Regions from separate parts of the Homo sapiens genome. Here region 1 is linked to region 2. The links come from fine-mapping of genetic effects on gene expression. A gene starts in region 2. The other region holds a variant in brackets. All regions are shown on one strand. Distances are between the middles of the regions. Region 1 overlaps CD36 (CD36 molecule (CD36 blood group)). Region 2 holds the start of CD36 (CD36 molecule (CD36 blood group)).

Evidence for each region. PIP is the estimated chance that this variant, and not a neighbour inherited with it, causes the effect.
Region 1: its variant is fine-mapped to the expression of CD36 in whole blood (TOPMed, PIP 0.97).

What each region holds. Positions count from the first base shown.
Region 1 is chr7:80,659,641-80,662,571 of GRCh38, forward strand. It overlaps CD36 (CD36 molecule (CD36 blood group)), which reads left to right. Exons shown (of 15, transcript NM_001001548.3): 5 at 1,423-1,570. Among named protein-coding and RNA genes, the nearest start is that of CD36, 22 kb to the left of the region's middle. The variant T/C (reference allele first, on the strand shown) is at 1,572.
Region 2 is chr7:80,637,515-80,640,445 of GRCh38, forward strand. CD36 (CD36 molecule (CD36 blood group)) reads left to right here and starts at 1,128. Exons shown (of 15, transcript NM_001001548.3): 1 at 1,128-1,232.

The DNA of each region.
Region 1 (2,931 bases), 22 kb after region 2:
TTTTTCTTCTAGTGACTGCCATCTACTGGTATAATGTTGTCAGTACACTTTAGGTAACGTGACAATTATGTTGCTATTGTTTTAATATATGGGCATATTTCTGAAAATTGAAGTACTTTGATTTGAAATATTAGTAATATGCACACTAATTTAAAATACAATTGTCCTGAGTGCTGTTTCAGATTTTTATATTCTTTGTGTGTCTGCAGTACTTCAAGAATAGTAGTTTTAATAAAATTATATTAAAAATATATTTCTAGCCAACTTTGAATCCTCTTTTTAAAGAATCTGAGACATTTGTTTAGTAAATACATTTACTGAGAACTCATTATATACCAGGCATGATGCTTAGAGATACAAAACACTCATAAACCCCTACCCTGTAGGAATTTACATTTTTATTATAATGGAATAAAATGGGTTTTTAAAAAATTCAGTCCAATTGCTTAAGTCTTTACCTTGGCTATCTACTCACTTCACAGGCATTCAAATATGACAGTGCAATTATGATATATATCTTATTTCTTCTCAGTGAATATCTTCCACTTGTGAAATGTATTTTTCCTGTAATAATCACCCTTCACCGCGTTCCTAAAATGTAGTTGGTACTTTGCAGCCTAGATATGTTAGAGTCAGGAGATTAGAACTAGCAAAAGTATTCAATATACTTGAGGGGCTGGGGAAGTTAGTCTATAACCCTTAAAAATGGAAATTATATTCTTATCTCTAATTCTCATTAAAGAAGTCCTGAAAAAGGGAAAAAGCAGTGCTGGATAGGCCTTGTATTTTGATCATTCTTTCTAATATAAGAAAATGTGCTCTAAATATTCCCCTGCTGAAGCCCCTGTACTTTTTCCTCCTTATCCTCAGGATAAAGTCTCGTTTGAGTATTAGATGCAACTCTTTTATGTTTGAGATCTTACTTGTTTCAATAACTTTATTTCCACTACTCTCCTCACCTCTTACTCTGTAATCCAACCACACTCAAATATCTGCATTTCCCAAAACATATTATGTTCGTTCTTATGCATGCTACCATCTGCCGTACTTTACCTAACTAAACTTGTATTTGTTACATAGACCATTTATGTAGACTTGTACTAAAAAGTGTTTTAACCCTCACCCCTACCCTGACCATTCTAAATCTGGATCTGGATCTGTTTTGTGTTTTCCCATGGAGTCTCCATTATAACAATATTCCTTCTCTCTCACTATTTTAATTTCCAGTTTGCCAGTTTAAGACCCCTTCTCGTTAGTTTGCTAGAGACCCTGGCTGATTTCTCATTTTAACACCATTGCTTACATACTATCTATCTGGCATATTCTGTGTGTTCAAAAATCATTTGTTGAATGAATGACATTTGAGATCTAATGTTCACATATGACAAATGTTTTGAATTTTGTTTACTGCTATTTCTTTAGAGTTCGTTTTCTAGCCAAGGAAAATGTAACCCAGGACGCTGAGGACAACACAGTCTCTTTCCTGCAGCCCAATGGTGCCATCTTCGAACCTTCACTATCAGTTGGAACAGAGGCTGACAACTTCACAGTTCTCAATCTGGCTGTGGCAG[T/C]GAGTAGACAAACAACAAAGTTATCTATTTTAAAATACTCTAGAACTCATGTAATTAATCCTATCATTAGAATTATTAGGTTTTACTTGTTTTTCCATTTTTATCAAAACGTATTCCTATATCATTATTTTGAATGGAGGCATGGTCATTTGGAAAGTGACAAAATCATAAGAATCGACTGCATTAGAAGACCACTTTATTTTTTTCATTATTTTTTGTCGAAACATTCTCTATATTTAATTTCAATTTTATAACAGATTACAGGAAGATGCTTAAGAAACAAGTACAACATTTGTTTCAGTATGTCTTTAAATGAAAGACTTTTAAGTATGTAAGCAACTATATAATAAAAGGTTTCCAAACGCAGCCTGTAAGAAATCAGGCAAATTTTACTATAAGCAATAAACCATTCCGAGCTTTCCAGACAGTGTACCAGTAGCTGTACCAGTGGGCAATAACCTTTAACCAAACAAAAACAAACAAACAAACAAACAAAAGCACTTTGCAATTTGTTGCTGCAAAATGGGGAGAAAAAAAGAGTATATAAACTTGATGGAATCACAACTGTCAATATAATTTAAGGGAAAATAAAGTCGATAAGGTTGATGGTGTCTATTGTTTGGAAAGTCGAATTCGGCTATTTGCTTGGGGCTCTAGAGACCACACCACTGAATAAACAAAACTCTGCAGAGTCTAGCTATCCGCCAACAGGGGGTGCCGTCCAAATTCATGGCAAATAAAGGGCATTTGGTGCTCACCATTCACAACAGGCGGGCATTTATGTGGATGAAGTACAATTTCTTCAGCAAGCTCAGCAAAAACTCTTAAGGGGCAAATATGAACTCTGCATTTTAAGAAAAATAGAAAACGGAAACACAAAATCCTAAAAAGTATATGAAGGCTCTGCATTAGCACACTGGCATCAAACCACACATCCACAGCACATCCTAATTCTATGGGAAACAATCCTTGCTTATCGGAGGTGCATATCTAAATTCAATAGCTTACCAATATATTCTTGGGAGTAGGCCAAAAGGAAACAGAAAACCCACATTAAAAAAAGAAGTTTCTTTTCCTAAACATTTTCCTGAAGCTGAAATTGAAGTGGAGAGGAAGTCAGTTGTCCTCGTCGAAATCGTAGTCCTCCTCATCCTCCCCAACCTGGGACACCGGGGTCTTCACCCTGGAGATGCTGTACTGAGACCTGTTGGAGCTTGTGGCCAGCATTTCATCCGCACCATTGGTCAGGTCACTGGCAGAGAGCCTCGTGCCGTTAGACGTGGAACCTGCCGTTGTGATGAACACGCCTGCAACAATTGTCTGCGCCATTTCTGTCACGTGTGGCTCCAGCGCCTTTGGG
Region 2 (2,931 bases):
CAGTAAAAACTTCCCTGGGGAAAAAAAATTCTTGAGGAGAAAAGAGTGTTTGGGGTTTTTTTTTTCAGTTGTATGGCACTGCTTGCAAATGAAAGGATTCGTTGTGTGCCTCACATGCCCAAAAAGGACAGCACGAGCATTCTAACTTAAGGACTGGTTTAAATATGACCTAATGAACTAAATATATTTCTGTCTGGTATTCTTAGGTTACTTTACTTCTAAGGTTGTTTGAATGCATTTATCCAGCTCTCCTATCAAATACATGCCAGGTTAACCCTGTGAAGGTTTTCCTGTATGATTCTGAGAATTTCTTTATAAGAACAGGGTCTTGATAGTGAAGGTTCTTTCCCCAAAGTGCAAGGCCTTCTATTTTGATTCAATATCAACATAATGCTTTTTTTTTTTTTGAAAGTGACTTAAGTACTAAAGATTATCCTCAATAGTAATTCTACTTAGACATATTTTGGTTGAAGAAATTTAAAGAGTTTATTTTTTGTAGGAGCACTGTGCTGTGATCATGAAATTTTTGCAAAACTAACAGAAAATGATAAACAGTTAAGAACTTCCAGCTAGAACAATAGGCTGTTTCCTTTTTTTAAGTCAGTTTGTCATCCTTGCTGATTGACAGTCTCCAATTGTTTTCAGAATTATTAGTCTCACAGTATTTCAGAATTACGCTGTATAAAAAAGTACATTAAATTTAAACTTAATAAAATAAGTTTCGCAAGCTCAGTCAAGACAGGGAAGTGAGAATATGATTATTCTTCCAAATTTACTATTTCCACCAGCGGTCTCAGTTCAGCATCTGAGAATATGTTAGGGGAAACTCAGCAAGTCAGTTCCTTTTGTTTTTCTGGCCTCTGACTTACTTGGATGGGAAATAGCCAAAAAAAAAAAAAATGCTGAATATCTCAGATATAGGTAATGGGTCTTCACCAGAACATAAAAATAGACCCTTATTAGCCATATCAGTAATGTGCTGTGTGGGGGATTTTTTTTTTCTTTCAATTCCTCTGGCAACAAACCACACACTGGGATCTGACACTGTAGAGTGCTTTCTCTTCTCTTTTTTTGGGGGGGGGAGGGGGTGTGGTTGCATATTTAAACTCTCACGCATTTATGTACTGAGGACTGCAGTGTAGGACTTTCCTGCAGAATACCATTTGATCCTATTAAGAATTGTCCAAATGTTGGAGCATTTGATTGAAAAATCCTTCTTAGCCATTTTAAAGGTAAGTTGTATGATTTTTCTTTAAATAAAAAAGATTAAGGGATTTTTCCCATCACCCAGATGACGGGAGGTGACACTACTGTATAAATACTCCTAAGAAGTTATATAGGAGGACAGGAAAAAAGGTAGTAACTGTTTTCTTAGTCACTAGGCTTTATCTAAAAATCAGGTTTGCATTATTTTCAAGTTATCAACCTTCCTATATTTTATGCTTAAACCATACCCAATGGCATTTCATGTCGTATGTATAAGTTAATATTTAAAGTGATTTATAATCCAATTTGGATTATTATAAAACTTTCATTTTATACTTAGGCTATTTATACATGATGTTTAAATGATGAAGATCATTATACTGCAGACCAATATAATGAGGTTAGATGTTATAAATGACTTACAGCTCTTATGTCAACATGTTGTCTAATATGCAATTATTAACTATTACTTTACAGAGTCATTAGCTTGTTTAATTTTCAATCTGAATTGCACAACTTTTGGTATACCTGACTTGCTCTACATGATCAAATGCAATGTGTATTTTGGATATGTGCTTTTTAAGTTCTTTTCTGTAATGAACAAAGATATTGTCATTGTTACTGGGAATAGCAAAGTATATTACTTTTAAATAATCTGAAATTTAATTAGTGTAAATTAGTAGAATAAAAATAAAGTTAATTTTTTTTCGATTCAGGAAGCTTATTACAAATAGTACTGAATTATTAGATGATGATGCCAAGTTGAAGTAAAGGAGAAATCAATTTGGAGGAATTAAGTAAAAGCCTCAAATTAATTATACATTAACTAAAATTATAAATAACTGTAAATGGCATAAATTCTCTAGAGTACATCCCAGTTTCTGAAATCATCAAGTAGCATATTGAAACCTGTTTTGTAAAGATTTGCATGTACTTTTTAGTCTTTTTCTGTGTGGTTTGAAGTCAGTAATGTGTGTTGAAGCTAAAAAATATTGCTTTAAATATTGGTTCACAAGGAAGCCAAAATGAAATATTTAAAAATGTTTGTTATATAGAAAGTCCAGTGGTCCTTTGGAATTTACAAGAAAATAAGAACTAAAGTAGAAATCATTTAATTTCCCAGACTCATTAGTGAACCAGAACAATAAACCAAACAGAGAACCATCAGATAATGGGTTAGCCTGGGAAGAATATTAATTACAACTGGAGGTACTTGCACAGAGTGTACTGAATTTGGAATTTACCTTGGAAGTTATAGTTGCCACCCTATTTTTTTAAGGAATTTTTTTAACCTTGTTTACTTTAACACATTTGAACCCTGCATGTGTGTGTATTTCCTGTGTGTTTCCTGAAAAGGAAAGTTTAAGATAATTCTGTAACTATCAGATACTTAATTCTGTAAGTATCCTTGCATCTAATCAGAAGATGTTTTTGTTCACTGGCCCAAGATGTGTCTGAAACTTGCAAGTAGCATTGTTCTAAACTAGTAGCTGTCTTTCCATTTGCATATTTTAATTCCATACATATATGATCACATTTCATTATAATCTAACTATTTTGCAAATACTCATTTCTACTTTTGTAAAATATACACATTTATTAGATTTTTAAAACACTTGGCCAATATGAAATAACACTTTACTGTTATGGTTTGAAATGATACTTCATAGTAATATTTCAAAATAACAATAACATTTTCTACAATATAAATATATATTATTTTAC